Linked DNA regions of Homo sapiens. The protein of the gene in region 5 purifies or fractionates together with the protein of the main gene of each other region. This does not show direct contact. Each region holds a gene or a part of one and is shown on either strand. Other genes may lie near its edges. The genes, in order: DCAF13, UTP15, NOL6, PWP2, RRP9, UTRN and DHX30.

The links.
Region 1: the proteins of RRP9 (region 5) and DCAF13 purify together in Homo sapiens (affinity purification with mass spectrometry; 2 studies listed by BioGRID, with this or other methods). This does not show direct contact.
Region 2: the proteins of RRP9 (region 5) and UTP15 purify together in Homo sapiens (affinity purification with mass spectrometry; one large-scale study listed by BioGRID and IntAct). This does not show direct contact.
Region 3: the proteins of RRP9 (region 5) and NOL6 fractionate together in Homo sapiens (co-fractionation; one large-scale study listed by BioGRID). This does not show direct contact.
Region 4: the proteins of RRP9 (region 5) and PWP2 fractionate together in Homo sapiens (co-fractionation; 2 studies listed by BioGRID). This does not show direct contact.
Region 6: the proteins of RRP9 (region 5) and UTRN fractionate together in Homo sapiens (co-fractionation; one large-scale study listed by BioGRID). This does not show direct contact.
Region 7: the proteins of RRP9 (region 5) and DHX30 purify together in Homo sapiens (affinity purification with mass spectrometry; one large-scale study listed by BioGRID and IntAct). This does not show direct contact.

The regions. Positions count from the first base shown.
Region 1 is NC_000008.11:103,432,386-103,435,885, forward strand, and holds part of DCAF13 (DDB1- and CUL4-associated factor 13), read left to right. Parts: intron 1-273; coding exon 274-356; intron 357-3,240; coding exon 3,241-3,405; intron 3,406-3,500. UniProt on the Homo sapiens protein: Part of the small subunit (SSU) processome, first precursor of the small eukaryotic ribosomal subunit.
Region 2 is NC_000005.10:73,575,743-73,579,242, reverse strand, and holds part of UTP15 (U3 small nucleolar RNA-associated protein 15 homolog), read right to left. Parts: intron 2,292-3,500; coding exon 2,207-2,291; intron 1,388-2,206; coding exon 1,238-1,387; intron 493-1,237; coding exon 391-492; intron 227-390; coding exon 93-226; intron 1-92. UniProt on the Homo sapiens protein: Ribosome biogenesis factor. Involved in nucleolar processing of pre-18S ribosomal RNA. Required for optimal pre-ribosomal RNA transcription by RNA polymerase I.
Region 3 is NC_000009.12:33,463,925-33,467,424, forward strand, and holds part of NOL6 (nucleolar protein 6), read right to left. Parts: coding exon 3,470-3,500; intron 3,339-3,469; coding exon 3,190-3,338; intron 3,064-3,189; coding exon 2,988-3,063; intron 2,786-2,987; coding exon 2,645-2,785; intron 2,502-2,644; coding exon 2,384-2,501; intron 2,302-2,383; coding exon 2,147-2,301; intron 1,974-2,146; coding exon 1,810-1,973; intron 1,436-1,809; coding exon 1,283-1,435; intron 1,053-1,282; coding exon 955-1,052; intron 238-954; coding exon 113-237; intron 1-112. UniProt on the Homo sapiens protein: Part of the small subunit (SSU) processome, first precursor of the small eukaryotic ribosomal subunit.
Region 4 is NC_000021.9:44,124,399-44,127,898, forward strand, and holds part of PWP2 (periodic tryptophan protein 2 homolog), read left to right. Parts: intron 1-181; coding exon 182-329; intron 330-1,612; coding exon 1,613-1,721; intron 1,722-2,501; coding exon 2,502-2,567; intron 2,568-3,500. UniProt on the Homo sapiens protein: Part of the small subunit (SSU) processome, first precursor of the small eukaryotic ribosomal subunit.
Region 5 is NC_000003.12:51,935,917-51,938,904, forward strand, and holds part of RRP9 (U3 small nucleolar RNA-interacting protein 2), read right to left. Parts: intron 2,289-2,988; coding exon 2,179-2,288; intron 1,821-2,178; coding exon 1,753-1,820; intron 1,671-1,752; coding exon 1,629-1,670; intron 1,403-1,628; coding exon 1,276-1,402; intron 640-1,275; coding exon 515-639; intron 434-514; coding exon 341-433; intron 1-340. UniProt on the Homo sapiens protein: Component of a nucleolar small nuclear ribonucleoprotein particle (snoRNP) thought to participate in the processing and modification of pre-ribosomal RNA (pre-rRNA).
Region 6 is NC_000006.12:144,291,835-144,295,334, reverse strand, and holds part of UTRN (utrophin), read right to left. Parts: coding exon 3,428-3,500; intron 1-3,427.
Region 7 is NC_000003.12:47,834,138-47,837,637, reverse strand, and holds part of DHX30 (ATP-dependent RNA helicase DHX30), read right to left. Parts: intron 1-3,500.

The DNA.
Region 1 (3,500 bases), on a different chromosome or scaffold from region 5:
TTTATTGTTTATATTTTAACTTTTATTATGTGTCACATTTTTCTGACTAAACTGTAAGTTGTTTGAGATTAGGAGACTGGGAGTTAAGCATTTCTATTTTTATATTTACTATTCTGCCTGTGTATTTAAGAAGCAATTACTGATTGATTTCTCTTCCCATTGCACTGAGCTGAGTACTTTACACATAATAGGTGTTTATGAAATATTTGCTTAAATCAGTGGGGAAAAGAAAAGGAAAGGAAGTGGGAAATTCATCCATTCTTCCTTTCTCAGGTTATCTTAGATATGAGAACAAATACAATCTGTTGGAACCCTATGGAAGCTTTCATTTTTACAGCAGCAAATGAAGATTATAAGTAAGTTTCCCTCTTTTAAAAACTTGTGTATTTCTATCATGAATGGCTTAATTGTATAAGTCGTACTAATAAAATATATACCACTAGGTAGGTATACCTATAAAGTTTGAAAACTGTCATCTGTTTAGCTTTAAAAAGTTTTCCAAATTGGAGAAGAACTTCTTAGAAAAGTATTTATTTCGTCAGTATTTAGAATGATGTAGACCAGGGACAGTAAACAACTCGTGGACCAAATCCTTTCTGTTGCCTGTTTTTTATAAAGTTTTATTGGAATATGGCCACACCCACTTACTTATTTAGATATTGGATATGGCTGCTTTTGTGCTATAATGCCTGAGTTGAATAGTTGCAGCGGAGACCTTATGGCCCACTTGCCTGAAAATGTTTAACATTTGGCCCTTTACAGAAGAAGTTGGCTGATGTTTGATGTAGGTCTTATAAATAATGACTGAACCATACATGTTTTAATGGAAATGAAAATATCTGCCTGCAATGTTTGTATTGCGGTGAGTATCAGGTAGCTGATGCTCATGTGGTCATGTTATCAGCTATCACTGTTCAGTCAGATGGAAGAAAAATTATAGTTATCTTTTCAGTATCCATATGAGGTAGGTGGGACATGCATGTTATCCCCTTTTTAAGATATTAAAGCGGGGAGATTAGTCTCCCAGGGAGGAAAGAGTATCTTATCTTTTTTTTTCCCAAAGCATTTATTATAGCGCTATGCCTTTGATAGATTCTTAATACATGTTTTTTTTAAGAAGGCAGAAGTTTGTTGGTGGATTGAACTTTAGATCTTTGTATTGTTTTATGTTCCACTATGTAGATTTGGAAGCAAAAAAGTAGTAGTGTTAGCTCATAAAAGGATTTATTATATGATGTTTTAGTGGTACCAACTAAAAGCATCTTTTATGACTTTCTGCTAAAAAGAGGTTTAGTCCAGGAGTTTGAGGTTACAGTGAGTTGTAATTGGGCCACTGCACTCCAGCCTGGCCAACAGAACAAGACCCTGGTGTCTTAAAAAAATAAAAGAAGCTCAGTTAGACTCTCATTAACTAGCAATACCAAACCACAGTAATTGAAGCTTTTTTTTTTAACCTTTATTGATGTTTTGAAATTAAGTGGCATTGTTCCAGTTAAAGGCAATAAAAGACAAGAGTAATACAGCATTATTGTGACCAACCTCATTAAGATTTCTAAAGAATGTTCTAATAAGCTATTTTAGCAAGGTACCGTTTTTCAGAGTGTCCTCGGAATTTCTCATTCCTTGCCTTGAAAAGAATTGCATATGCCACCTGAAACAAAGAGCATATCCCTTATAATAAGTGACTGTTGGAGTATCATAATTGCTCTTTGAAAATGATCTTGCTTTTGTATCCCTTTTCTATATTTGTAAGTATTTTTTTCTTTTATTGCCCTTTAGATATTCTAGTCATTCTGAATTAGAAACCTAAGTTCAAGTCTAGGCCGACCAGTAATTACTGTATAAACTTGGGCAAGTCATTTAAACTAACTCTATATCATAGTTTCAGCATCTGTAAGGTGAGGGTTAGAATAGATGATCCCTAATGAATCCTATAATGTGGAACTTTGTTTATTTAAAGGTTTTCCATGTACACAAATTGATATGCTTAGAATTGGAATTCTTATCATTTTTCCCATGTAGAAATAAAGCATCTTACTAAAAAGCAGTTTGCTGGAACCAAGCAAACCTAGCTGAAAACCACTGTTCTTAGGCAGGAACTGTAAAGCAGTTGTCAATGTCTTACTACTAGTAATGTTAACCTTGATCATTTGGTTAGGGTGGTGTCTGCCAGGTTTCTCCACTAAAGAGTTACTTTTTTTTCCTTTTGTAATTATTATATATCTTTGGGGAGATACTTTGAAACTATGTAGATATCCTCTTCTCAGACTTCTACTCACTAATCTTAGCATCTTCAAGTATTTTTATATTAGGAACTTGGTCACAATATTGCTGTATTACTTTTGTCCATTGTTCATGTTGGTTCATTTGAAGCACTATTCTTTTAGCCATTAGATTAAGAATTTTTGAATCTTGAAACTCATGAAGTCATTGTTTTTACCAATTGTGCATAAAGTATAGTTTCTCATTTTGATTCACCCTTTGAAAGGCCATGTTCACTCTTACATATCACCAGTAGGAGTATAAATTAGTGCAACTTTGTTGGCAGTGATTTGGCAACTCAAATCAAGCCTAAAAATGCTCATGCCTTTAAGCTTAACAATGCTACTTGTAGGAATCTGTCCAGATTTAATTGAACCTGTCCCATTCAGTTAAAGATTGAATGTTAAAAATCCAAACGTTGGGAATTTAATAAGCATTATATATAATAAAATGTTGGAAACTATTAAAATATAGGGAAATAAATTATTTGAACTTATATATACAGCCATTAAAATATTTTCAAAGATTGTTTAATAACATGGGTAATGCTCATTAATATGCTACGTGAAATATCAGAATATAAAGCTTTACATAACATTTCAATTTTATTAAAAGTATGTATTTAAATAGTATGGTGAAAAAGGTTTTTTAAAAAATTATGCTGTACTAAATAACTGGCCTCTGGGTAGTAGAATTCAAGGTAATTTTTGTACTCTACTTTTTTTGAAATTTCCACATTTTCTACAATGAGATTTATAGGGTGGAAAATGTGTTGGTATATATATAAGTGGAGTCTTAAGGAATCATAAAAACTGTTGAAATTTTTCCTTATCCCTCACCTGCTTGTGTACAGCATTGAGCTTTTTGTTTAGATGTGCATTGTTTTGCAAATGGTTCTTGTTTTCAGTGGTATCTTTTAGTACTGCATATGGCATCTTTCTAGAAATATGTGTCAAATATTTAAAAATTCTTTTACAGCTTATATACTTTTGATATGCGTGCACTGGACACTCCTGTAATGGTCCATATGGATCATGTATCTGCAGTGCTTGATGTGGATTACTCTCCCACTGGGAAGGAGTTTGTGTCTGCTAGTTTCGATAAATCTATTCGAATCTTTCCTGTAGACAAAAGTCGAAGCAGGTATGTGCCTACCAGTAAGCCATTTATATTCATATGTCACTTAACAATGGGGATGCATTCTGAGAAATGAGTCATTGGGCGATTTCATCATTGTG
Region 2 (3,500 bases), on a different chromosome or scaffold from region 5:
AGTTCTCTACAAAGATCAAACTAAATGTCTTTTATTTGGTGATAAAGGATTTCAGATGCAAAATGTAAGTGTTTCACAGACAAAAAACATACCTTATCAAAAAATTAAGAACATGACTGATTTCCTTCTCATCCCGACCTGCAAGCGCATTTGCAAGGACTCCTCTTCGATTTAACTCCTTTATGATGGACACCGTAATCTCGGGTGTCTTTATTGTACAAGTGGGCTAGAAAAATTTTCAAAGTCAACATGAGTAGACAAAACAGCACAAAAAAAATCACTGTCTTGCACTAAATTATCAAGTTTGAATAATATTTATCTTCACAGTTCCAAGTCATGGTAATATGCAGGGTAAGTAATAACATGATTTTTTAAAAAATGCTCACTCACATCAAGAACTCTATCGAGTGCCTTAGAGATCCGAAAATGTTTCAGATCCCTGTCATACAATTCTAGGTGCTTCTTTGCTGGCCTGTTAATCAAAATGTCATCCTGCAATGAAAAGTACATTTATAGAGAAGGAAAATCAGCATCTGTGTAAATATACATTTAATATAAACTTTTTCATAATGAAGTGGTATCTCTGAACTATGTCACAAATAATGTTCATATGCCCATAATGTAGATTAAATAAAAATGCATCCTGCTAATCAGAGTCAAAAAAAGAAAAAAAAAAAGGAGTAACTTGCTACATCAACATGTTCTTACTCTCTTATAATTTTAACTTACAACATGCACCATTGCCTTAATTCTAGGTAAAAATTACTCATTTCAATTCTCTTTATGTGGCAGGCAGTGTGGTACAGTAGAAAGAGAAATCAAACAACAATCAGAGATAATGAGATCTAGTCTCAACAACTCTGGATACCAGTAATGAAATCCTGAATCAATCACAAATTATTTGTCGCTCAGTCTTCTCAGGTGCCAAACAGGGACATGATTGGTTCTACTACTTCTTGGGATTTAGATCAAATCAGGTAGTATGTGAAAGACATTATTTTGAATGCAGTAAAGCATTATAACATTATGTTATGATGCAGAGTATTACATAAAGTAGTCCTTGTTCCCCATTACTCATCAATAATGTCCCCAATCTAGCAATCTAGAAATAATTCTGATGTAGAGAAAAGCAAAATAAAGTGCCATGTGAACTACGCTTTCCAGTAATGTGCAGGGATGAAGCTGGCTACTCTAACAAATTTCACCCTTTAAACAAATATGAGAAATGCACAAATACCCGTTGCTTCATGTAATTTTTTCCTTTAATAAAGGTTCGATATGCAGGCCTTCTTCTTCTGGGAAGTGATTCCTTCTTTGCTTCAGATTTCCGATGTTTAACACTCAGTATTCCATTGGTCATTCCTACAACTATTGTCTCATCTTCATGCTAATAACAATTAGAAAAATAAGTTAGTCTATTCTTAACTCGTAATTTATAGTACTTTTACTTCAAAACACATTTACCATGTGTTTGCTGCTTGTCCATACATTCACCAACAGTTCCATTCAAATACACATAGTCTGCCTAACGATGATTGGTGCAAGACGTTAAAGCGAAATCATTTTTTCCTTAGGATACAACTACATTGACAGAACTTATACTTGTAAAATATCACTGGCAAAGTTTGTATAATACATAGTTAACGGCATCAAAGATTACACAGTAGCAAGACTTTTATGATCTTGCCCCCCAAAAATATTTTTAATAAGCTTTTCCTCTCCCAAATCAGATTTCTATATAATATAGTCAAATGCCTTCCTGCCCAAATGTGGCTTCTCATAAAACTTGACAGTATACATTTCAGAAAGAGCAGTAACAAAGAAAAGGAGATATTTCATTTTGTTGTCCCCTTCTCCCCACATCTTTTTTTCTGCTCAGAGAGCTAATCTGCCTTTCTAGTGTACTATAATACTCTTGAGTTAAATGAGTTGAAGAGAGATTTACCAGCTTCCCAGGTCCTGCGTTTAATGTTAACAATGCCTAGAGCACTGTATTTAGTTTGAAGTTCTACAGTGAGTGGGACCTAAATCTGAATTCATGCTGAGTCAATAGGACGAGTTACATATTCCAGCAATTGTCTTAACTCAAATATCTGATGTGGCAAGAAAAGTTACTCAAATCTAAAAATAAAGCCCAAAGTTCCATTTTAGTTTCATTTAACAGGCAGGGTTAGTGACAGACTTAAAAATAGGTAAAGGTACTTACTGCAAGGGCAAGACTCAAAATTGAAGCTGCATAATCAAAACTGTGGACTACTTTGTAGGAAGTTGTGCTGTATACTTTCACCTTCCTAATAAAAAGGAAAAGCTTTGTCAAAAATCACCTTGAAAACGAGTATAAAATGCAAATTTCTATTTTCTGAAAACAAAATACAAACATTAAAATCTGTACAACAGTGAAGAAAAACAAAGATTAGTAATGTTAATTACAAACTAATTCATCACTGAATCCCTTAAAAAATGAGCTGTAGGCCGGACACGGTGGCTCACACCTGTAATTCAAGCACTTTGGGAGGCCAAGGTGGGTGAATCACCTGAGGTCAGGAGTTCGAGACCAGCCTGACCAACATGGTGAAACTCCATCTCTACTAAAAATACAAAATAGCTGGGCGTGGTGGCACATGCCTGTAATCCCAGCTACTTGGGAAGCTGAGGCAGGAGAATTGCTTGAACCTGGGAGGTGGAGGCTGCAGTGAGCCAAGATTGTGCCACTGCACTCCAGCCTGGGCGACAAGAGCAAAGCTCTGTCTAAAAAAAAAAAAAAAGAGCTGTATACCAGCCCTAACTATAACATCCGTATAAAAACTTTGACTAGCCACTTATAAAAAAAATAGAAGGGCCGGGTGTGGTGGCTCAGGTCTGTAATCCCAGCACTTCGGGAGGCCAAGGTGGGCAGATCACTTGAGGCCAGGAGTTCAAGACCAGCCTGGCCAACACGGCATAACCCGATGTCTACCAAAAATAATAAAAACTAGCCAGGTGTGGTGACACACACCTGTAATCCCAGCTACTCAGGAGGCTGAGGCATGAGAATTGCTTCAACCTGGGAGGCAGAGGTTGCAGTGAGCCGAAATCGTGCCACTGCCCTCCAGCCTGGGCCACAGAGTAAGACTCTGTTTCAAAAATTTAAAAAGAAAAAAAGGAAAAAAAAAAAACAGAAGGACAGACCATGAGCCACTGTCATCTGAAGATCAAACTTGGGAGTAAAGAAAAGGTATTAGCCGGGTGCGGTGGCTCACACCTGTAGTAATCCCAGCACTTTTGGAGGCCGAGGTGGGCAGATCACCTGAGGTCGGGAGTTAAAGAGCAGCCTGACCAACATGGAGAAACCCTGTCTCTACTAAAAATACAAAATCAGCCGGGCATGGTGGCACATGCCTGTAATCTCGGCTACTTGGGAGCTGAAGCAGGAGAATCACATGAACCCAGGAGGCAGAAGGTGCGGTGAGCCGAGACCGCGCCATTGCACTCCAGCCTGGGCAACAAGAGTGAAACTCCAT
Region 3 (3,500 bases), on a different chromosome or scaffold from region 5:
GGGGTACAGACACATCAGACTGGAACTGAAGTGGGTCTCTCCCAGGTCAGGCTGGGCCTGCTTTTTCCTTGGGAAGAAAACCACACATTAGGGGGCAGGTATGGGGTTGAACCTGGGCTGAGGGTCCATCCTGTGTCCACACAGAGTTTTTGCGGTCTTGGGGGGTAACAATGACCATGACGGGGAGCTGTGCCCGAGCTGCCAGGAAGCCACTGCGGATCTCCACCTGCTCCTCCACTAGAGACAAGAATGGGTCCTGGGTCAGCCTGCTCCTCCCTGTAAGACACCCTCTACTCCCCCAGGTCCTCCTACGGTGCCCCCAACGGCTGCTCATCACAGGTATTTTTCAACACTCCCCCCCACCAAGTGGCAAAGGTGACGAAAGGGACATCGCATTTGCCTCAACTGGGTGGGGCATTAATCGCCCAACCTCAGCCCAGAGGCAAAATTTTCCACTGCTTGGCACCCCCAGTCTGGTTTCCGGGCCTGCACAAGCTGAGTCTTGCCCCTGGCCCCCTCCCACCATGGGCTTCCACACACCTGGGGAATTAGGAACCTGACACCCTGCTCTCTGCAGAGACCGAGTGCCTCACGTTACAACCAGAAATCACCACTCCCACCCCCACCAAGAGGTCTGAGTATCTGTGCTACACTTCCTAGCTCCGTGCCCTAATACTTCTTACGTGGTATTCAGGATCCCCCTTCTATTCTCCTCTTCCTTCCACAGCCCCCCGCCAGGTAGCTTGCTTACCACCCTATCATTCTGTCTCTGACAATTAAGAGCAAACCATGTCATAATGGTCAGGCTGTTCACCTGGACCTCTTCTTCATGTCAGGCTTAGACATCTGGGGCTGGGGAGGCACAGAGAAAACCTAACACTGCCAGGGAAACCCTTGCCTGCAATCCATAAAGAGCTGTTCTTCCAGCAGTCTGACCCCTGTTCTACCACTTACCAGTGAGCTCATTATTGAGGTTGACAAAGAGGGGGTTGTTCTTCCAATCAAACGTTGATACCAAGAAAAGGAATCGAAGGAAGCCAACCTGGGGGGAACTAAAGGGCTGGAGTAAGCAAAGAATCCAGGGCCCAGCCACATATCCCCAGGCTTCTCTCAGGCTATGGAGCTCAGACCCCCTGGTGTGGATTGGCAGGGCAGGGCATCTTAGAACCCCTTCTGCCACTTGCTCAACCACCCATTCCCATGTAGACTTAGGGTGCAGCACGAAGGATGATGGCTGGCCGCAAGGAAACTTCTCAGCTGGGGAAAAAGTGGAGGGAATCACCTCGGAGGGGTGAAGGGCTCAGGGTGCAGGAAAAGGGCAGCGGCCACCAGATCCAGGCTCTCATCAGCGAAACCCTCACCAAGAAGCTGGGCACGCACCCACCGCTTGGCCAGCCGTGCCACACCAGAGAAGGCTGGGTGCTGCTGCTGCAGTCTGCAGAGAGAAGGGGAGTGTCAGCGAGACTCAGGGCCCCACTGCCACTGTTCATCCAGCCCCTACCCAAGGCCAGCCTCAGTGATAATAGGTTACATATGTAATCTCATATTCTCTTAAGAAATGCACCAAGAAGTTGACCCTAGTGTTATTTCCATTTTACAGATGACAAATATAGGGACCAAGGAGGAAAATCTGACCATAGGGTCACAGTCAGTAAGTGGCAGAGCCAGGATTCCAGAACCTGCCTGACTCCAGAACTCATACCCCTAACTATGATACCATCTGGCCCCTGGAGAGACAGGTGGCTAGGTGAGGAGAATGGGGGCAGGAGGGGGCCTACAGACAGGAAGAAGCTGTGTCAGTGGCCTTACCCGTGCAGGGCACTGGTGAGCAGTGGCAACTGCCTTGTGTCTCTCTCAAGGCGGAGGGAGGCAGCTGTGTCCCTCAGCGAGATCATCCCCTCTGGGCTCTGCACCTCCTTCAGGATCTGGGGCTCCCGCTGATAGGCCACGCGAATCCGAAACACAAATCCATCCTGTTGGAAGAAGGTATGGAAAGAGAAGGATGTGTCAGCCCAGAACCCCGGGAGTACTCTGTGGCCTACAGCCCTATTACCCAGCGTGGTACCCACAGGGGTGTCTTCTTCCACGCCCTGACATCCCTGGTGCCCCCCTTCCCTGGGGACATATCTGCCTGCACCAGCCTAACCTTAAGGACATCCGTGTGCGTGGCAGTGGCACGGCACTGCAGACCATGCTGTTGTGTCAACAGCTCTGCCAGGCGCAGCTGGAAGGCAGCTCGGACCCGCTGCACGGCCTCAGCGTCCTGTGGCCACTGGCCACTGCCCTCCAGGTGACAAACCACTGAGGAAGAAGAGTCAGAGGTCTCATACTGTGGCCTGGAGCTGGAACTATCCCTCCCACTCCCTCCCAAGGGCCCTCTTACCGGTCATGGGCTCCACGTAGGCCGGACAGGGCTTATCGAGCCGGGGCAGCAGTGAGGACCGCTCCCGCAGAGTCTCATAGAAGGAGAAGGCTGGACGGACTGGAGTTGGTGGGAACACCTGTGGAAGAAGAGGGGCTGAGGAATGGGCCTAGGACTGGGAGGGAGTGCCCAGAGTCAGGAGTTGGAAGTGGGGAATACTGGGTGACTGGAGCAGAGGTGGGGCCACTAAGCAGAAAGGTCACCTGCACCGTTGCACCTCACCTCTGTGTAGCGCAGCACTGGGTGAGCTCCCTGAACAGCAGACACGGTCAGTGGGAGACCCTCTAGCCCCCACAGTAGGCGACTGAGGTCGTCGTAGCAACGTACCGCCGCTACCAGGGCCTCCTCACCTGTGCTGGAGGTCTGAGAGGGAGAAGACGGTCAGGAGGCTGGACCCTACAGAAGGCCAGCTTCACCTGGATTCTGCCCCAGCTCAGGCTGCAGCAGAGCCAGCACCGCCGCCTGCTGGACATGCCAGGAAGTGCAAGCTGGCCAAGGCTGAGAGGACTCTCTCCCCGCAGATTGATTACTCTACAATCACTAGCCTTGACCCCAAGACCCTTACCTCTTTCAGGCCTTGGATAAGTGCATCCAGGGGGCCCCCCACATAGTGGACACAGGTTTCTGGGATGTCAGCATGGCTGAAAAAGAGGCAGAGACACAGTGAGAAAATTTGGGGCTATGTTCTCGCTCAACTGCCTGGGCCAGACCCCTGAAAAGGCTCCCCAGCCCACACTGCCTTCTGGAATCCAGATGCCAACACTCACAGTGCCAAGAGGTGGGTGACCACCTGGTGGGGAATAAGGCGCTTCTGGGACATAGAGGCTGCCTCCCAGACCACAGCTTCCCGAATGGCTCCGTCCTGGAAACGCCGAAGCTCCGAGCGGGATCCCCAGAACTGGCGGAATTTAGCAGCCTGAGGAGGCAAGGGTGGTAGTAGAGCTGGGGAAGGAAGGGCTCTGTGGACCCTCCCCAACAAGCTTCAGTCCAGGTGCCATGAGGACGAGCCACCCCATTCCTTCCAGTGTACATGCTGGGGTCCCCCACCTCAGGCTGGTCTGCCTCTGGACCCAGCTCA
Region 4 (3,500 bases), on a different chromosome or scaffold from region 5:
CTTGGTATATTGTCCAAGCTTGTCTTGAACTCCTGGACTCAAGCAATCTTCCCAACTCAGCCTCCCAAAGTGCTGAGATAACAGGCGGGAGCCACCATGCAGGCCTAAAGTTGGTTTTTAGGAGCCATACGCTGAGGTTTCCGTGGTGGCCACCGTAAGTCCATGTCTCCTCTCCACCCAGGGCCTTCACCGCCCTGTGCTACTCTGCAGACGGCCACAGCATCCTGGCGGGAGGCATGTCCAAGTTCGTGTGCATCTACCACGTCCGTGAGCAGATTCTCATGAAGAGGTTCGAGATCTCTTGCAACCTGTCTTTGGACGCCATGGAGGTGAGCCGCCAGCGCGGGGCCGGATGGATGTTGCTTCCAATGCAGGTGGAATGCGTCGGGCTCCTGCGTTCTGCACTCCTGGCTCCATGGGGCCTTGGGCACAGTTGTGGTGCTTGTCCTGTATCTAAGTGCACGGGCCCCTCACCTGCCCCAGCAGAGTCCGGCCGTGAAGCCAGCACCTGCCTCAGCTGTGTGTGGAGCCACGGTCCCCAACCCTTTTGGCATTTGGGACCGGTTTCGTGGAAGGCAATTTTTCCACAGACAGGGTTGGGGGGATTGATTTTGGGATGAAACTGTTTCACCTCAGATCAAGATCACCAGGCATTAGATTCTCAGAAGGAGGGTGCAACCTAGATCCCTCACGTGTCGTTCACAATAGGGTTCGCACTCCTGTGAGAATCTAATGCTGCCACTGATCTGTCAGGAGGCGGAGCTCAGGTGGTGATGCGAGCAATGGGGAGCGGCTGTAAATTCAGATGAAGCTTCACTCATTCACCTGCCCACCACTCACCTCCTGCCGTGCAGCCTGTTTCCTAACAGACCATGGGCCAGTACCAGGGGTTGGGAACCACTGCTGTGGATGACCCTGCCGAGGCTGGTTGCTAGGAGGCTGGAGCTGTGAGGGGCAGTGCCCAGCACACGCTGGCTCAGGAGACACGGACATCTGTCAGGGAAGGAGTGAACGAAGAGGGTGCTGGTAGGCCCTGCCCGATGGCTTCCTGCCCGGGGTCCTGTGTACAAGGCTCTGCCTTCACTGTCCCCACTGGTGCCTGCCCTTCCCCCTCAGCACAGCCCTCGGCTCAGGTCCCACTCACATGCTGGCTCCTGCAGGACCTCAGAATGAGAGTGAGGAAGCCCTGGTAGCCTCTAAGCAGGGGTGTGGCTGCTGGGTTCACCTGTCCACGCCCCATCGGGGCAGAAGCCCACTGTCCCCTAAATGTTTCTGGGGGAAAGTGTCCTTGGCATTTTCACAAGGGAGTAGACGGCCATCCTCGCTGTGAGCCCCAGCCTTTGTGATGGTGGCAGCAATGCCAGCATGTAGACCTCAGTCCATCCCCCTCCGCAGCCTCCGCACCTGCCCTGCTCCACAGCTTCCACACCCACCCTGTCTGCAGCTAGCTCTGCAGGAAGAGTCCCTGGGGCACTGCAGGGCTCTCTCCCCGTCCTTGTTCTAGACAGGGCTGAGGCTTGTCTGGTGTTGGGGTCAAAGAGCAAGGGTAGGAGACGAGGGCCAGGCGGCCAGGCCATCAGAAGCAAGGCGTCCACTGCTTTTGCTGTTCTAGGAATTTTTGAACCGAAGAAAAATGACAGAGTTTGGCAACCTGGCACTAATTGATCAGGATGCTGGGCAGGAGGATGGAGTCGCGATACCACTGCCAGGCGTCAGGAAAGGTGAGCAGAGGTTCCTCCCGCATCTGCCCACCACTCACCGGTCCTGGGTGACCACGCATTCATGCCCCTGGTTGGGGCTGCAGTGTGTGGAAATAACAGTTACTACATGGTGACATTTGCTGGACACTGGGGGTGTCAAAGGCCCAGTGGGTTGGTGCTGGTGCCGTCAGCCCCTGGGCAGGAGAAGCTGCCCATGTGTTGCTACACGTGGCCTCCCTGCCCTGGCGGGACCCGTCCATTTGCTCTTGGGACTGGGTGCCCCGTCTGCTGCACAGCACACGGAGCATTCTGGCGTGAGGCCATGTGCGCCGCACAGAGAGCCAGGTGCTCTAGAAGATCTGGGTCCCAGGTAGACCATCCTGATGGGACACTCGCCAGCCAGAAACCCTGAGTGCTTCCATATGCAGGCCCAGGGTACCGTGTTGAGCACAGCAGACCCACTCCTGGGCTGGGCTGGGGCCCTTTTCTGGGTTGGACACACAGTCTGCTGGCCGGGCTGGCTTTTTTGAGCATCTGCCCCATGGGCTGGGCCATCTGTTTGGCAGCTCACCCGGAACAGCCTCCGCGGCCCCAGCACGGGCCCACCTGCCGCAGCTGCAGCGAGGGAAGGGCTGCTTCTGCCTCCGCTTTGTGCAGGACCCAATGAGTAGAGGCTGCTGCTCTTGATGGGGCTCCCACAGCACCCCCCAGCCAGCCGGGAGACCGCAGGATGACTTGCTTCGTGGGGAGAGCAGCCTGGATATGCTGTCCAGTGATCATTAACGGTTCTTTTTTCCCCAGGTGACATGAGTTCTCGGCACTTCAAACCTGAGATCAGGGTGACCTCACTCCGCTTCTCTCCCACTGGTGAGCACTGAGCCATGGGCTTTTGGTGCCGGTGGGCACTGGGGCATCTGTGCCATAGCAAGGCTGGCCACCATGGAGCTGTCTGCAGGCTCTGGGCTGTGCCCTGTGCCCCTGGGTAAGAACATGGCCCTGCAAACCCTGCAGGCCACAAGATGGCTGTTGTCCCTGAGGATGGATGGCTGTCACGGTGCCAACCTCAGATGCACTGAGCTTTGAAACATGGCAGGCCTGGTATGCCCTTGCTCTAGCAGCTCCCCGAGTGCCCTGGACGTGCTGCCTGGGGGCGGCTCTGCCATCACGGAGAGCCCGTCTCCTGCGCACTGCCCCCATCCTCTCGCAGTGGGGAGGAGGGTCTGTGCCACAGGCCTGTGGAGCCTGGCGGTGCACATGGTCCCCACACAGAGGAGCCAGGAGCAGGGCTATTGGCAAGCGTGCTCCAGCCTAGACTGAGTGTCAGAGCCAGGGGCAGAGAGGCCCATGTGAGCCAGGGGTCTGTGCCCTCGGGCCCAAGGGCCAAATCTGGCTGGCCACCTGCTTTGGTCACTGATGTTTTACTGGGACATTTTACTGGGCGTTTTTTTGTTGGCGGATCCTTCTGGCTGTCTCTAGTGATCCGTGCAGCACTGAGTAGGTGCAGCAGAGACCACAGGGCCTGCGGAGCTGAAGACGCCTGAGCTAGACAGAAGACTTGGCTGGCTCCCGGCGTCAAGAGAGGAGGACGCATGCGTGTACATATTTGCTTATATGTGCATCCCTGGGAGAGTAACTTCTGGGATGATCCATTCATTCCTTCCCAGGGGAGTAGTGGGGTGGGGGCTAGAGGCAGACGTCCCGGTTCCTCCTGATTTTTGCACTTTGTCCCAGGGGAATGTACTTAATACTGTTTCTTTAAAAAAAAAAAAAAAGAAAAAAAATGTTGGGAGGAATGAGCTT
Region 5 (2,988 bases):
AGTGGTGCGATCATAGCTCACTGCAGCCTCCATCTCCTGGGCTCAGATGATCCTCCATCTCGGCCTCCCAAAGTGCTAGGATTATAGGCAAGAGCCGCTACATCCCGCCCAGAGGCGGCTTCTCAAGGCCCTCGTTGATTCCTGAGCAAGCTCGGCCCGGTCTCCCCCAGCTCCTCCCCATCCCTTTAGCCCATTTATGTATTTTACAGCACCACTCGCTACCCACTCGCTACCCCAGGATGCAGGTTCCCTGAGGACAGAGACTCCAGAGGCCAGCACTGAGCCTAGAACACTAGCATGTGCCCACTAAAGATCCACTGACATAGACCCAGCTCCTCACCGACACTGCATCCCGGTGTCCTGTGAAGGTGTACAAGTGCTGGCAGCTCTGGGCCTCCCAAATGAGAATGAGCTTGCTGCGGTCACCAGAGGCCTGCAGGGATGAAGACAATGATCACAGGCACCCACCATGCACCAGACCTCCCGCCTGCCCCCAGGGCCAACCTGGCCTTACAAGGTACTTGCCGTCGGAGGAGATGGCCATGCAGAGGACGTGGCTGCTGTGGCCAGGGGGCTTTCCCTCGGCACCCTTCTTGGCTCGAGGAATCACATGCAGCTTCCGTCCACTCTCCACGCTCCCTGCAGTTGGGGGTGGGGGAGAAGCTACTGGGATGGGGGGATAGGGCTGGCTGGCAACCCCCCTCAAGGGGCAGCATGGAAAAAAGAGCCATGGCAAATGTCCCGGACTCGGCCAGAAGACCTGGCTCAGCCACCGTGAGCCTCCGGACAAGCTGCCTCAGTTTCCTCATCTATGAAGAGGGACATTAGTGCCAAACAGCAGCCACAAAGCCCAAAAAAGAGAAGGGATGTAAAAGGGCTTTGGGATTGATGGTGTGAGTTCTTCTGTTACTACAGCGGGTGTAGAAGGAACCGCTGGTCAGCCAGCAACGGATGGGAACCCAGGAGGACCGGGCACTCAATCCCAGGACTGCACAGCCTCAAATGTCTTCTAGTCCAACCACCTACCTGCAGCATTAATTCCCATTAAATCATCATCCTGACTTTGCCCAAAGGTCTCTAGGGACAGGGAGCTCATAAGCCCCACTGCCGGGCAGCAGCTTTCACTGTCACCCAGAGAGCACTCCTAGGGCAGCAAACCTGCCTCCAGAGACTTCCCCACTTCAGGGCTCAGCCTGCCATGACCACTCCCACTCCCCTGACCAGCCCTCCCGGATCCGCCATGGGGGCTCCAGCCCCACCCAGGCACTCACTCACACTTAATGATGCTGCAGTCTTTGGCAGCAGAGAAGATGGCTGAGTCATCGGGGGTGACGACCAAACATGTGATAGAGAGCTGGTGCCCCCGTAAAACGCGAATGTCAGCTGAGGCTGGGGCCTGGATCTGGGCAGACAGGGGCCAGGTCACTGTGGCTAGTGGCATAAAGGCACTACCTTCACCAACCCCACTGCGTAGTGTTGGCCTTTCCCACCCAGGCCAGAAGGAAAACAAGACCCAAGGCTACAACAACCAGATCCTTACCTGACCAGATAGGCCCAAGTGTCCACCATGTTCCAAGTGGGGCCCCCAATTCCCTCCAACCTTATACCAAAATACCATGCCCACTCACCTCTTTTGCCACCAACTTCTGCAGCCTGCCCCTCTGCTCAAGCTGCATGGAGAAGAGATGGATGAGACCCTGGGAGCAGATCAGCTCCACCCCCGTCCTCCCCCAACTCTCCCTCCACACTTACCACATCCTCCTTCAGGCGCCCCGCCACCTGGTCCTCCTCAAATGCACGGGCCTCAGCCTTCTCCTCCTCTGTGCAGGACAGACCAGACCAAGTAAACTGAGGCTGAGACCCCTCTTTCCCTTCCATCCTGTCCCCATCCCACTGCCCCAGGGCTGGATAATGCAGGAAGCTCCAGCTGCCTCAGCAGAGGGGAGGGCAAGCTGGAGGGTTTCCTCCTGCCTTTACTTATCAGATCAGCCCCCTGCGGGCTCCCCAGGAGGCCCATGAGAGCTTCTGGCCACCCCCACAGGGCAGCCAGCACTGACAGCCTGGGCACCCACTGGGAATCCATGTCAGTCACCCATCAAGTGGCTGGGGCTGCAGCGGCGGGCAGCAGACCAGCACAGGCAGAAGCCCTGCCCATGGCTGGCCTGCCCACTGGCTCACCTTGCTGACGGAGCTGCTCTAGGTAGAGCTTGGCCAAGCGCAGCTTCTTTTCCTGTGCAGTTTCCTCCAGCTCCTCCTCCTCCTCCTCCTCAGGCTTCCTTGGAGCTAGGCTGTGGGCAGGAAGGGGCTGGGTCTGAGGGGCTCACCTTGTTCCTCTGACCGCTAGGATCGTGCCTTCTGGATGCTCACCTTGCCATCCAACCTCCCCTATTCCCTGCTAGCCCACATGGTCGGTGACTACACTGCAGAAAACTGAAGGATGTGACTCCCCAAACTAAAAGGCCCCACTCAGTGCCCCACGTAGGGGTGGAAACAGACCCAAATCCCAAAGAGATCACTAAAGCCTCTCAACTCTGGGGGAAAGAGGAGGCTTCCAAGAGAAACCAGGCTTCCAAAAGAAATCAGGTCACATACAAAGAGTCAGGAATCAAAATGTGCAGGCATCTCAACAGCAATACTGAGAACAAGAAGACAAAGAAGCCTCACACACAAAGCTCTGGAGGAATACACTGACCCCTAAAATGCCATGCCCAGTCAAACAATCAACGACGACACTGCCAGGTGTGCAAGGTGCCATGGAATTTTCTCCCTCTTTTTCTTTAGGAAGGATAGAAGCTGTGCTCCCAAACAAGAGGGTAAACTGGGAAAGAGAAAGGCAAGGGATACCGGAAACCAGAGATGCGACACAAGAGAGCAGAAAGGGTGACACTATCCCCAGACATGACGGGGGCAGTCTGGATCAGATCCAAGGACCCACCAGGCAGACACACCAGGACTGTCATCACCACAGCACCATCCTTTACCCTGGGA
Region 6 (3,500 bases), on a different chromosome or scaffold from region 5:
CAACAGAAAAGGATGACTTATTCTGTGTTACTAGCTTTAATGTATGTTAATTATTGAATGAAATAGCAGTGAGGATATTCTTCGATTGTATATGCATCCCAAACCATTTTATTATTTCATGTTTAAAATGTTCCAAGCAGTACTTTCTGCATCACACACTCTACTGGCAATAAATTTCACTTTTTAAAAATTCTTAGTCTTGGCCTATTGTTTCAAAATATTTACTAACTTGTTGAACTTTCTAAAGCCTACTAATTAAGGCTGTTAATAATACAGTACTTGATGATGAACTTGGCATATGTGCTTTTAAGTTAGAGAAAGACAGGTCTACTTTTACCCAACACCAAATCCTTGGTCATTATAGATCAAATTCTTTCCAGTTCCTTTCTAACACTCACCCAAACCCAAGGCAAGTATACTACAACCATAAATAAATACATGGCTTTGTATTTATGAAACTACTTCATTACGTACCCTTGACAACTTCCTATTTCTGTTTAGATGGTAGAAATGGCTTTAAAATTATAAAATTTAAAAAATTATAATATTCAAAATGGCATGAAACAAAGTAATACTAAGTGAGGACAATAAAAATAATCACAATAACTTAACATAAAATGCATAGACATTTTTATTATGCCAATTTAATTATGCCAGCCTTTTGGATTGTCCAAACTCGAGGATTTGGAGAGCAGAAACCACACTCTCCGTCCCCCCACTTTCATCCAATTTCCCCCCAAAAAAGAAACCTGGAAGAGCAGATGAGGATCAAAATTTTCCTAAAGGAAAGTATTCCCTTTTAAAAAATGGAAAAGCAACCAATTTGGCATACAGCATGTAGACAGAGGATCTTTAAAATACATATATGATATGTAGACAATTCCTATGACTTAATCTAAACTAAAAATCTCTTAAAATATGTAAGTTTTAGAGTACCATGAAATATTACCTCTGTATAGTAAGCATTTGCCTTAAAAGAATCAAAAAAAGTCCCTTAGAGGAAGCCAGATTGGGACTAATGGGTCCATTCAAATCCAAATTTATCTACTGGCTTTTGCAACATAATTCAGCCAAAAGAATGTGATTCATATCTGAGCTATGTAACAACTAAATTTTCAGTGTGTTTTGAAGTAGATGCCACCACAAAAAAAGTAATAGTCATAACCTTGGCATCTAAACACTCTAAGCAATTTGATAATCTTTAAAAATATAAGAACTCAGTAATGTGGGTTCATTGAAGAACTTTAGAAAATATAAATCAGCAAAAAAAAAAGTAATAATCTCAAATGCCAAGATGACCACTATTAACATTTATTGTATACTTCACTAAATTTTTAAAAAACATTTTTCATATAAATGACTTCATATAATACATACTTGTTTACTTACTATATCAAGAACACATTTCTATATTCATACACACACACACACACACACACATCACACACATCTGTATCACTTTTTATGAATGCTTAATCTTCTACTTTATGGATATACCCTAATTTAGTTACCTCTACTGAGATCATGTATGATCTGTTCAGATGTGCTAGAGTAAAGAAACAGAATAATAGGTTTAAACAACTATTTCCTAAAGCTATTTGACCATAACATCCTTTTGTGAATTACACATTAACAATCCTAGAACTTTTGATCTTTTCGAAATACTTTGGGAAATAATGATCTAACCAATTCCTAATATTAGATTTTCATGGTGTTTACAATGTTTTCTATTATAAATGATACTGTGATCAATTTCTTGAGTGTACCTTTTTATGTATTGCCTAGGGAAAAACTCTAGAAACAGAATTACTCAGTTAATTGATATGCATGTGTTAAAAACATGTTATCATTTTTGCCAAATTGTTCTCCAGCAATATTTTAGGTTCATCAGCCTTTTTAAAAGATAATTTTAAATTAAAATAGTTTGGGAGTTTATATGTTCATTATATATACACGGTATTTCTGAAATTAGATAATTACTCTTTTATGGACACGGCTAAAGTACAAGTTATAAATATCAAAGGTCTTACTAGAATGAAGGCTGACTCAGAAAACTATTTAGGAATATACCTCCTCACAATTTATAGAAAATGACTAGTATGGAGACATTAAATCGTCTCTCTTCCATTTTCCTCTGTTATATTTACATATGTCTGAATATGTATTCCGTACTCCTAAGATGATATTAATAATCCCTTACATTTTTGTAGTACCTTATACCACTAAAACATTTAAAACAAAAAGAATTTTACAGGAAGAGAACATCCTCAAAGCATATTTTAAAACAAGATATTAAGCTATACCTTCAAAAGACCCGTCAAGCTACACAATAGTTGCTACATATTTACAGCCAAATCTGTAATAACTAAAATCTTTATCAATCAACCAACACCGGTATCATGGAGGAAAATGTGTATTTTAAGACAGTTAATTTAGATCTTATTTTCACTGTGTATTTCTACAGTTTCACATAATAAGAAACAAGCTCCTAACAGAACATAAAGATGGTTCACACAGCAAAAACAGGCTTTGGGTTCCTTTTTTGTCTTTAAAGTGACACTGGATGTAATTTTATACCTCAAAGTAACTTTTCAAAGTTACTTAAGTATAGTGTTCACACTCAGGGTGGAGTTCTGTGTAATTTTCAAGGCTGAGAAGTGTTCTGCCTGTTCAAAAATATCTCCCCTTTGAGTTTGTCTCAGAATCATATTTGAAGCTTTTTAAAAATACAGAAATTTTTATTCAATGGGTCTGGAATGGAGCCAATGCATCTGCGTTTTTTAAAACTCCCCAGTTGATTCATCTGTACAGCCAGAGTCAAAAAGCACTCGGTTATATAAAAAGATTGGAGGAGGGGGTGGTATCCTGAGGACCCCAATTTAACTGTTCGTGTGAAAACCATGAATCTGTCTGAGTCTGGTTTATTAGATTACCTAGGTGAAAATTTTACCTTGAGAAGGCTCATAAGATATTTCAAGGTAGGACACCTGTTGGCCTATCAATGGCTATGAACAGGGATGGGGGTGAGGATATATGGTAATGAAATCAAACTGTGAAAGATCTTTCCTGCCAGAAACTGTGGCACTTCCTACATTAAGCATATAATCCCTTCAATTTCCAGAAAATAGAAAGAGAAATGTTCGGTCGTATTTTATTTTAATGGAGTAGTCTTCCAAATGAACAACCTTTAGCTACAAGCAGCAGTTTCACTAAGCACAAAATTGGGTTGAGAAAGGATAGGACACTCAGAGATATTATACCTTTTACATATACCTTTTACAAAATTATAGTCATTTGTCAGAATTCAGTTTCTTAAAAGAACTTCACCTCCAAGAAGTTCTTGCAAGAACAATGCAAATCAATCCAAGAAACATAGGTTTTCTAAATACATAAAAATCCATAGCTTTCTTGAGCTTCCTTTACCTACCAGATCTGGACTTAATGATATCACTGAATTCGTTCTGCCCATTGTCAGGACTGGCTTCATGTTCTCCATACTT
Region 7 (3,500 bases), 4.1 Mb from region 5:
AGGCGTACGCCACCAGGCCCGGCTAATTTTTGTATTTTTAGTAGAGATGGGGTTTCACCATGTCGGCCAGGCTGCTCTCGAGCTCCTGACCTTGTGATCCACCCGCCTCAGCCTCCCAAAGTGCTAGGATTACAGGCCCTCATGCCTGGCCCTCTAATACCGTTGAAGAAACCTCCTCCACAGCTGCCGCTGGTATTCTCTTCCATCCAGTGTCCCTGTCTCTGGTCTTGCCAAAAACTACTGCTGTCAGTGATTTTCCCTAAAAGCAAACTTGGCTGTGTCATTCTATCAATTACCACTAGTCAGAAGCCCTGGCAGCCACAGGATCAAATCATTCTGCCCCTGTGACAGTGAAGGCCCTGGAGTTCTAGCTCCTCCCTGCCCGTCTACCGCATGGCCCAGCAGGCAGACCCACATTCATTCTCATTCCCCATAGCCACGCATATTCACCCGGGCTCTAAGCCACATTGGCCTGAGTCTGGAGTGCCTTGCTCCAGCCCTCGGCCCTGGCAAGGACCATTCTTCAAGAATAAGCCTCTTCTATTTAGGAGGCTGGGGTGCATTTATGTCCTCCCGTGGACACCTTCTTCTTGGCTGTGGCTGCTGACTCAGTCCCCTTTGTGCTGCCAGCACGTCTCACCAAGCCTATGGGCAATGCAGAAAAAGACATCTGATTTGGGGGGAAAGGGAAACGCTGAAGAACTGGGAGTACAGCTATTAGAGAATAAAAGGCTGAGTTCTAGAATAAAAAACAACTCCTATAACCACAACAAGATCTCATCTCACACCCATTAGGATCGCTATGATCAAAAAAACAAAAACAACTAGGCTGGGCACGGTGGCTCACACCTGTAATCCCAGCACTTTGGGAGGCAGGCAGATCGCGAGGTCAGGAGTTCAAGACCAGTCTGGCCAATATGGTGAAACCCTGTCTCTACTAAAAATACAAAACTTAGCTGGGCGTGGTGGTGCGCACCTGTAGTCCCAGCTACTCGGGAGGCTGAGGCAGGAGAATCGCTTAAACCCAGGACGTGAACGTTGCAGTGAGCCGAGATTGCGCCACTGCACTCTAGCCTGGGCAACAGAGCAAGACACCATCTCAAAACAAAACAAAACAAAACAAAACTATACACATAGATGGGGAAGAGAAAAAGAGATGGAGAAAAATGTGATAATGACCTGCTTCAGACAGGCTGGGATGGCCGGGCACAGTAGCTCATGTCTGTAATCCCAACACTTTGGGAGGCGGAGGCAGAGGCAGGCGGATCACCTAAGGTCAGGAGACTTTGAGACCAGCCTGGCCAACATGGTGGAACCTCATCTCTACTAGAAATACAAAAATTGGCCAGGCGTGGTGGCAGGCACCTGTAATCCCAGCTATGAGGGAGGCTGAGGCAGGAGAATCACTTAAATCCAGGAGGCAGACAGAGGTTACAGTGAGCCAAGATCACGCCATTGCACCATTGCACTCTAGCCTGGGCGAAAGAGAAAGACTCCATCTCAAAAAACAAAAGTCTGAGTTTAAAGTGCCTTCAAACATCCAGCCAGCCAGTCAGCCAGGCAGAGAAGGATTTCTCAGCTTCAGCATAATTGCTATTTTGAGCAGGGTAATTCTTTGCTATAGGGGGCTGTCCTGTGTACTGTAAGCTGGGAAGAAGCATTCCTGGCCTTGATCTTACAGCTGCCAGTAGCACTCCTCCACCTGTGTCCAACGAAAATCCCTACAGACATTGCCAAATGGCCCCTGGCCACTCTCAGCACTTTTTTTCAACATAGTACTAAAAGTACTAGAAAGTGCAGGCAGACAAGAAAAAAAGGCATCCAAACTGGAAAGAAAGAAGTAAAATTATCCCTGCTTACAAATGACATATCTTATATATAGAAAACCCAAAAGAGAGCCAGGCACAGTGGCTCATGCCTATAATCCCAGAACTTTGGGAGGCTGAGGCGGGTGGACCACCTGAGGTCAGGAGTTTGAGACCAGCCTAGCCAACATGGTGAAACCCCATCTCTACTAAAAGTACAAAAAAATTGGCCGGGCGCAGTGGCTTACACCTGTAATCCCAGAACTTTGGGAGGCTGAGGCGGGTGGACCACCTGAGGTCAGGAGTTCGAGACCAGCCTAGCCAACATGGTGAAACCCCATCTGTACTAAAAGTACAAAAAAATTGGCCGGGCACAGTGGCTCACACCTGTAATCCCAGCACTATGGGAAGCCGAGGCAGGCAGATCACCTGAGGTCAGGAGTTCGAGACCAGCCTGACCAACATGGAGAAACCCCATCTCTAGTAAAAATACAAAATTCCAGGCGTGGTGGCACATGCCTGTAATCCCAGCTACTCGGGAGGCTGAGACAGAACTGCTTGAACCCAGGAGACGGAGGTTGCAGTGAGTTGAGATTGCGCCACTGCACTCCAGCCTGGGCAATAAGAGCGAACCTCCATGTCAAAAAAAAAAAAAAAAAAAATTAGCCAGGCATGATGGCACATGCCTGTAATCCCAGGCACTCGGGAGGCTGAGGCAGGAGAATTGCTTGAACCCAGGAGGCAGAGGCTGCAGTAAGCCGAGATCGCGCTGCTGCACTCTAGCCTGGGCAACAGAGCAAGACTCCATCTCAAAAAATAAAAAATAAAATAAAAAATAAAGAAGTTCCTCAAAAAATTAAAAATAAAACTACCATATGGTCCAGCAATATCTGCTCTGGGTATATACCCAAAGGGAATGAAATCATCAGCTCATAGGGATGTCTGCACTCCCATGTTAACTGCAGCATTATTCACAACAGTCAAGATACGGAAACAACCTAAGCATCTGTCAAAGGATGAATGGTACATATACACAACAGGATATTATTCAGCCTTTAAAGAAGAGGAGATCTGGCCAGGTGCAGTGGCTCATGCCTGTAATCCCAGCACTTTGGGAGGCTGAGACAGGTGGATTGCTTGAGCTCAGGAGTTCAAGACCAGTCTGGGCAACACTGGAAGACCCCATCTCTACAAAATTAGCCAGGTGTGGTGGCGCACACCTGCAGTCTCAGTTACTCCAGAGGTTGAGGTGGGAGGATCTCTTGAGCCCTGGAGGTGGAGTCTGCAGTGAGCCATGATCGCACCACTGCATTCCAGCCTAGGCCACAGAGCAAGACCCTGTCTCAAAATAAATAAATAAAAGTAAAAACATGGATAAACCTGGAAGACATTATGCTAAGTAAACCAGACACAAAGAAAATACCACATGGGCCAGGAGTAGTGGCTCACACCTGTAATCCCAGCACTTCAAGAGGCCAAGGCGGGCAGATCACTTCAGGTCAGGAGTTCAAGACCAGCCTGGCCACCATGGCGAAACCCCATCTCTACAAAAAATACAAAAATTAGCTGGGTGTGGTGGCACATGCCCGTAGTCCCAGCTACTCGGGAGGCTGAGACATGAGAATTGCTTGGACCTAGGAGGCGGAGGTTGCAGTGAGCCAAGATCACGCCACTGCACTCTAGCCTGGGCAACAG